3 separate regions of the Homo sapiens genome follow, and all the other regions are linked to region 2. Evidence: fine-mapped expression QTL. A gene starts in region 2. Each other region holds a variant in brackets. All regions are shown on one strand. Distances are from middle to middle.

Evidence for each region. PIP is the estimated chance that this variant, and not a neighbour inherited with it, causes the effect.
Region 1: its variant is fine-mapped to the expression of TSPAN14 in whole blood (INTERVAL, PIP above 0.99).
Region 3: its variant is fine-mapped to the expression of TSPAN14 in whole blood (INTERVAL, PIP above 0.99).

The regions. Positions count from the first base shown.
Region 1 is chr10:80,483,084-80,485,835 of GRCh38, reverse strand. The region is part of intron 1 of TSPAN14 (tetraspanin 14); the gene reads right to left. Among named protein-coding and RNA genes, the nearest start is that of TSPAN14, 30 kb to the right of the region's middle. The variant T/A (reference allele first, on the strand shown) is at 1,511.
Region 2 is chr10:80,452,677-80,455,428 of GRCh38, reverse strand. TSPAN14 (tetraspanin 14) reads right to left here and starts at 1,119. Exons shown (of 9, transcript NM_030927.4): 1 at 1,058-1,119. RefSeq lists enhancers at 4-53, 84-343, 293-810, 1,554-1,763 and a silencer at 474-1,523.
Region 3 is chr10:80,499,885-80,502,636 of GRCh38, reverse strand. The region is part of intron 2 of TSPAN14 (tetraspanin 14); the gene reads right to left. Among named protein-coding and RNA genes, the nearest start is that of TSPAN14-AS1, 35 kb to the left of the region's middle. RefSeq lists a silencer at 2,510-2,752. The variant AC/C (reference allele first, on the strand shown) is at 1,531.

The DNA of each region.
Region 1 (2,752 bases), 30 kb before region 2:
CCCATCCTCAACCCACAGAAGAGGAAACTATTGCAATAAACTGTTGAAAAGAAACATTTCAGTTTTCCTTCTCCGCTCCCCGCTTTCCCACCCCTGCCACCCACCTAACCTCGGGACAGGGAGGGAAGGCACCTCTCAATCTGTCCCTCTCTGCTGTGTTGGCCAGCGGGTTGGAAAGCAGGTCCTGACCCTCTGTGGGGCTGGCAGATCCTGGTCTCCACATAGTTTAAGCTGAAGAAGGTAAATGGGAGACTCATTAGGACTCCAGCCTAAGCCACATCCTCCTACACAGTGTAAGGTGGCCTTCTGACTGTGGAGGGGTAATGATGGAGCTGCACAACAGGTATGGCTCGGAGGCTTCAGAACCCCAAGGGAGGAAAAAAGGACTGAGCGCTCCTGAGCCACCAACGGAGCTACTAGGGCATTTACACAAAAATGCAGGAAGGCTGATAAAGGCAGTAGTGCTGAAACTAGAACCCAGATCTGACCCAAAATGATTCCCAAAATGACCATGGTCCCTAGCATCTCACCTCATTTGCTAAACCACATCATACTGAAGGAAGGCAGAAGTTAGCCCTCTATGAGCAGATGCATCCACAAAGAACACCAACACTCTTTATCTTACACACACACACGCACGCATGACTAAGAACCTTCCTAAAAGTAGAGATGGGTAAACTTTTCACAAATGTTAGGTACCATTCCAGCAGAGAAGAATCTCCAAAAGCTATTTTGTGTGCCTAGAAAAAAAATTAGGATCTCAAACTGTCTCAACTCTAAGAATGTGATAGAAAATAAAGCATCAGTGTGGCAGGAAGGAGGCACATGTTTATCAAAATACCAACTTCTCAAAACAGGGCAAAGGGAGAATTGTTTAACAGTAGTGAGATAACTGGTTAGCAACTTGAGGGGAGTTAAATAATAAGCAAATAACAACTTACAGATTTAAAGGGCATATGCACATACATGCACACACCACACCCAGAGAACAGGGTTTTCAAGTCCATTTTACCCACCTTCAACTTTTGAGGCAACAGGAAAAAACAATTCAAAGCACAAGACTACCAAGCCTGAACAGATAACAAATCTAAAAAATCCCCATGAATAAAAGTAACATTAAAATAAAAAAGGAAACACAAATGTTATCTGCAGCTGAAAAAATTATGACACAGTAAATATCTGCAACCTATAGAGACCCATACTTCAAAAAGACCCCCGTTGTACACAAATGAACAAAGGATATGAACATTATACACAAAGGAAAGAATAACAAAGGGAAGAATAACGTAACAAATGGAAAAATAAGCCTGTGCAACAAGGCCAAACACCATCTCTACAAAAAGTACAAAAATTAGCTGGGTGTGGTGACTGAAGTCCCAGCTACGTGGGAGGCTGAGGCGGGATAATCGCTTGAGCCTGGGAGGTCCAGGCTGTGATGAACAGTGATGACACCACTGCACTCCAGTCTGGGTGACAGAGCAAGACCCGGTCTTTAAAAAATAAAAAAATT[T/A]AAAAAAAAGGAAAAATTTTCAATGTCACTAGAAATAAAACTTAAAGACAACCCAGATATACTATTTTACACTTTTTTTTTTTTTAAACAAGTCCTGCTCTGTTGCCCAAGCTGGAGTGCAGTGGCGCACTCAGCTCACTGCAACCTCCGCCTCCCTGGTTCAAGTGATTCTCTAGCCTCAGCCTCTGGAGTAGCTGGGACCACAGGTGCATGCCACCAGGCCTGGCTAATTTTTGTATTTTTTGTACAAACGGGGTTTCATCATGTTGCCCAGGCTGGTTTTGAACTCCTGAGCTCAAAGCAATCCGCCCACCTTGGCCTTCCAAAGTGCTGAGATTACAGGCGTGAGTCACCGTGCCTGGCCTATTTTACACTTTTTTTTTTTTTTTTTTTTTTTTTTTTTTTTTTTTTTTTGAGACAAGAGTTTTGCTCTTGTTGCCCAGGCTGGAGTGCAATGGTGCAATCTTGGCTCACTGCAACCTCCGCCTCCCGGGTTCAAGTGATTATCCTGCCTCAGCCTACTGAGTAGCTGAGATTACAGGCGACCGACACCATGTCCAACTAATTTTTGTATTTTTAGTAGAGACAGGAGTTTCACCATGTTGGCCAGGCTGATCTCGAACTACTGACCTTGGGTGATCTGCCCATCTCAGCCTCCCAAAGTGCTGGGATTATAGGCATAAGCCACCATACCCGGCCTACTTTACACTTTTTAATTTAACAAAATTGCCACCACTATTGTGGCAAACACATTTATTCCTTGTTGGCAGCAGATGAAACGGTTACTACCATTTGGTAGCAATATGGTTACATTTACCACCCAAAAAAAGGTCACACCCTTAATCAATAAACTAATGACTAAGAATTTGCCTCCAGAAAAAGAATACACATTAAGTGAAACATGAACCTCATGGTTTGCAATTATGAGACAATTTGTAAGCATGTGCTTAAAGGCCAAAGTGGAATGTTAAGAGCATGAAAATGGCTGCATGGGGTGGTGGTGGACTTACAAGTGATTTTCCAAAAAGGTTTCCAGCATCACACTTACCATTACCACCTTTGTATTATAAATGAAAATGGGGCCGCTGCTGGTTGGAGGTGCCCCTGCTGGGAAGGAGAATGCTTGCTACAATATATAAGGCTGGCAGTCATCATAAACAGGGCTCCTTGGCTTCAGTGTTGTACTCACCTTTAATATTCCTCCCTCCTGCCCTTTTTTAAATTAAAAAAGTAGCACATTCT
Region 2 (2,752 bases):
CAAGAGCACACCTGCAGAGGCTCCAATACAATGCTCTGCACAGCCGCCCAGCACCGCCTGACCTCCCGGATAGCAGCGCCAGCACAGCCAACGAGTGTGTGACACCGCCGCACTCACCACCGCTCTGCGCCCAGCCCCAGGCCAGTACCCGGGCCCACGACTTCCCCCGACTCCCCCTAGCACGGACTGTTTCTCGCCGGAGATCAACTTTAAGTCCCCAAGACAAGTGCTCCTGCGGTCCCAGGGCCAAAGTCCCTCCACACACCCTCACACAGGCACTTCCTACCCACCCGCACCCCACCCCTGGGGGTGGAGGAGAAGCAGCAGCGGCCCGGGACAAGCACAGTCCGCAGCCACAAACCTCACTCTACCAGAACTCCGGCTAGGTCAGGGGTCAGGCTTTGCTCCCAAACACAACCCCACACGACTAACGCGGAGAAGCTGGGTCACCGCCTACTCAAACTCCGGCCGTCCCAAACCCAAGCCGGGCAGAGTGGGACCCACGGCGGCGTGGGAGACTGAGCACAACCACGGCGGGGCAGGAGGAAGGGGCGGCCCGCCCCGGCCTACGCCCACCCCCACCCCGGACCCGATCTCCTGGGAGCCGAGGGTGGGTGACTGAGCCGAAAGGGTGGCCCATCCCCGAGCTCGCTGCTGGGGACGAGAAGCAGAGCCCCGAGCAGCAGCGGCCGTCCAGGCTCCCGTCGCCCTCACCCCGCCCGGCACGGGCGCGCACTCGCCGGGGCGCGCTGATGGGGCGAGGGCTACCGAACCAGGAGTGCCGGCCCCGGGCCCGCCGCGGCTCTCGTCCGCGCGGCGCCGGAGTTCGGCTCAGCGGGGTCCCGGCGGAGGCCTCCAACCTCTAGCGAGCAATCCTGGCAGACAAAGCCAGCGCCGCCCGCGGGGCCGCTCCTGGGCAGGCGGGGAGGGAGGCTGAGGGGCCAAACAGGGACCTAAGGAGCAGCCCTCGCCCCCGGAGAACGCTCGGGGAAGTCGGCCTCAGACAAAGAAAGGGGCAGGGCCCGACGCCCCAGCCAGGTCTCCGCGCTCTACTCACCCGCGCGCGGCGGCGGCAGCGGCGGCGCGGCCCGGCTCGGCCGAGGAAGTTAGAGCAAGTTCCGCGGCGCGGGGCGGGAGGGCGCGACTCGGGCCGTCCGAGCGGCGGGGGCGGGGCGCGGAGGGGCGCGGAGGGGCGGGGCCGGAGGCGCGGCGCCTGCCGTCTGCCGAGGAAGGGGCGCCGCTTCCCTGCGCCGCCCGGTGCGGCCCCGGGCGCCTGGGCCCGCCCTGGCCCCGCCCCTCCCCCAGCCGCCTCGCCCCTCCCCCACCGCACCCCGCCTCCCGGCCCGCGCGGCACCGGGGACCGCGAGGCCGGGTCGCCGGCCCGCCCCTTTGTCCCGCTCTGGGCGGTGCCGGAGGCTTGGGGCGGCCCCGGTCCGCGCCCTCCCAGTGGGTGCGCGGCGCAGGCCGGGCCTGGCCCGGGGCCGGGCACTTGTAGCCGCCGGGAGCGCTCTGAGCCGTTGCGCTGCGCAGACGCCGCTCTGGCCTTGTCGGAGCCGAACCTGGGAGAAGCACGAGCTGTGGGAGGCGGCGTCTCGAGGGATACACGGGATGACCGTGGAGAGCGGGCGAAGGATTAGGAAAATGGCTGTGGTGGAGATAAGAGGCGTTCCTGCCCGGCTTTGGAGCCTGGGGGCGGGGGTAGTCTTCAATCAAAAGAAGGATGGGGAAAAGGTTTTTATTTCTTTGTAAACCAAGGAGTAAGGACACGCTCCTTCTGGCCTTGGTGCTAAAAATACCAAGCTTTCTTTGGATCGTGGCTGAGATTTCTTCCTAACCTTTACGCTAAAGAGGTGGCTGGGACGATTCTTGTGGTGTAGGGGGGTTTCCAGGGACAGCCAGGGGTGGCGCCCCTCTTTGGATCGTGGCTGAGATTTGTTCCTCACCTTTACGCTAAAGAGATGGCTGGGACGATTCCTGTGGGGTAGAGGGGTTTCCAGGGATAGCCAGGGGCGGCTCCCCAGCCTCAGCCTCCCTACCTGTAGAATGAAGCATGCCACACCTCTGTTTCTTAAACTTATTCGGTGGCTGAGGGCCGAGTGGTCTTCTCTGTTGAGTAACACCAAACAGGGATCTATTAAAACTGGGCTAAGACTGGTTGCCACATGCCAGTACAAGCAACCAACAGGTTAATTCCAATGGAAGGAGGAAATCTTGAAATGGAGACTGTTCAGTCCATTCCCAGGTTTGTTTGGGTTGTTTTTTGAGCTAAGGTATCGCTTTGTCACCCAGGCTGGAGTGCAGTGGCATGACCATGGCTCACTGCAGCCTCGACCTCCCGCCTCAGCTTCCCCAAGTAGCTGGGACCACAGGTGCAGGCCACCACACCTAGCTAATTTTTTTTTTTTTTTTTTTGTAGAGACGAGATCTTGCTGTGTTGCCAGTGATGGTCTTAAATTCCTGGGCTTAAGCAATCCTTCCGCCTCTGCCTCCCAGAGTGCTGGAATTACACGCATGAGCCACGGTGCCTGGCTAATTTTATTTGTTTGTTTAATTAAGAGGGATGCAACCTGTCTGTGACAGCCCAGGCAGCTCTGGAAACTCCCTGGGAACCTGTCCATTCATTCAGCAGATAGTGAGTGTTTGTCTGAGTGCCTGATAATATGCCAGGCCCTGTGTGCATGGTGGGATACTTCAGTGAACAAGACAGCTGAGGCCTTTTGCCCAATAAAGTTAATTTTTAGTGGAGAAGACA
Region 3 (2,752 bases), 47 kb before region 2:
CGTCTCATTCAGTGGCACCACCGTCCACCCAGCAAGTGTAAGAGAGAAAACCCAGACCCCAGGCTTGGTGCCTTCTTTCTCTTTTGCCCTACACTCAACCCAGAGGACCCTCTGCTGGTTCTGCCTCCAAATACACAGTGCATTCGACCAGCTTTCCTCCAGTGTCTCTGCTCCCACCTGCCCCGGCTCCACCCACTCGAGTCTGGATCCCACGGGGCTCCTCACTGGTCCAAGCAACAAGACTGACCCTTCAAAAATACAGAGCTGGGAACTCCCCTCCTCGAAACTCTGCAGTGACTTCCCACGCAGACCTAGAAGAAAATGCACGGTCTCTCCCATGGCCCCCAAGGGCCTCTGCAGCCAGGCTTCACACACATCTCCCACGGCATCTCCTTCCCACCTCCCTGCTCCAACGCCACTCCCTGGGCCACCCTGACATTCTTGTTTCTTGAAGTCATCAAAATCACCCCTGCCTCAGAGCCTGGACACTGTTCCCTCAGCCGGCAATGCTCTTCCTCCATATCCATTCCTGGCTCCTCCCTCACTGCGTTCAAGGCCTCCTTTTACCACCCTGAGTGGAACTGCTCCCCATCCTCCATGTGTGACCTCCTCTGTTGATTTTCTTCGCGGCACTGATCCCAGACCACAGGGGCTGTCTCTCTATTGTGTCTCCCCAGCTAAGCCCTTCTGAGGCCAGAGATGTTACCTGTTTTGTTCAGAGTTGCAGCCCAACAACGAGGAGGGCTTGGCCCTCAGTAGGCACAGAGCAGGCATGAGTGACTCCCCAGGATTCAAGACCAGGACAGTGCTTGCCTGGGTCCTTCTAGCTACCCCCAGGCACACTTCTGGGTGTGATTCAATCCAAAGGCATTCAGAGCAAATGTGGGCCAAGAAAAGCTCAGCCTGGCCCAGGTGCATGGGTCAAGCTCTATACAGGGGCATTTGCCTATGGTCAGAGCAGAACAAGCCCAGAGGCCGATGCCCCATCCAGCATTCCCAACAGACATTCCAGCCCCTGCCTAACAGCTTTCCATGACAGTCCGCTCATCCTGTGGGGCCACATGGGACAGGTGAGAAAAGTCTACCTTAAGGACACTCAACAAAACCACTGCTGGAGCTCCCCTCTCTCCTCCACACTGCACTTCACAGCTCACCCCTTCTCTCACCTTGACTACTAAGTCTGACTTCTAAGGGTATTGTTTCCCACATTAATACCAGCCTCAGGCTGAGAACAGTGGCTCACAGCAATTTGGGAGGCTGAGGCAGGAGGATTGCTTGAGCCCAGGCGTTCAAGACCAGCCTGGGCAACATAGCAAGACCCCCATCTCTTAAAAAAAAAAAAAAAAAAAAGGTTTTCTAAAAAAATTAGCTGTAAAAAAAAAAATGCCTGTATTCCCAGCTACCAGGGAGGCCGAGGTGGGAGGACTGCTTGAACTTGGGAGGTCAAGGGTGAGATTGCACCACTGCACTCCAGCCTGGGTGGTAACAGAGTAAGACCAGGTCTCCCAAAAAAAAAGAAAAAAAAAAAAA[AC/C]AGCGTCAGTTCCATCTATATTAATAGGTTTCTGTGAATTCACGCTGAGGTGCTGTTTTAGTTGTTTTGTTCTCCTAGGTGACTAAATAGTGACTAAATAGATACAATAGGAAGAGGTGACTGGTTTCACAAAAGGAATTTTGGTCTGCACAAGTTCTCAAAAAAGACCCTCGACCTCAAGAGCAGTTCATATCCCCACCCTCAGGGGCACAGTGCCCATGCAAAGGTAGGCCTGCTCCTGCTCACCTCTGTTCCAATCGCCCCTTCCCCACATGCAGGGCCGCTGTAGGGCCGCTTACCGCTCTGCATATGGCCCACAGACCACACCCTCCCTCGCTTGCTGTTCTTCTCAAGGCCCCCAGGGAAAGCCCTGGCTGACTCTGTGTTTACTGGGGAAGCCAGCTCCCCACCACTGCGTGCAGTTCTCTTTCTCTCAGCTCTAAGAATAAGGACTTGGCCAGGCGTGGTAGCTCATGCCTGAAATCTCGGCACTTTGGGAGGCCGAGTGCTGGGAGGCCCAGCACTTTGGGAGGCGGATCACCTGAGGTCAAGAGTTTGAGACCGGCCTCACCAACATGGAGAAACCCCATCTCTACTAAAAATAAAAAATTAGCCGAGCGTGGTGGCACATGCCTATAATCCCAGCTACTCAGGAGGCTGAGGCAAGAGAATCACTTGAACCTGGGAGGTGGAGGTTGCGGTGAGCCAAGATCACGCCATTGCACTCCAGCCTGGGCAGCAAGAGCAAAACTTCGTCTCAAAAAAAAAAAAAAAAAAAAAAAAAAAAAAAAGAATAAGGCCTTGTGTTGTTTTCATTCTGTTTTAAAGGAAGAACTAAAGTTAACTCACACCGGAAAGACAGGAACTTGGGGATCACATGTCAGATCATGGGTTCAATGAACAGTGGCCCAGGGCAGGAACTCTGAGTACCAACAAACCTGGTTTCAGAGACCAGGAGATTGAGGGAGGACTAGACAGGGGAAGTGATCTGCCTGAGAGCTCACATAACGGTCCCATGAATGAACTGGGTCATTGGCCCGCTTCACCCCACGGAACCCTTCCCTGGAACTCTGCAGCAGATGGTCCATGGGGCCAGGCCAGGTAAGCCCTGGCTGCTGTGAGCCCTGGCTGCCAATCTTCTGGGAGTGAGGGTTCAGCTGAGTGCCCTCCAGCCTCAAGTGACCTTCTTTGTCTCCCTCCCATGACCTAATTGAATTACCT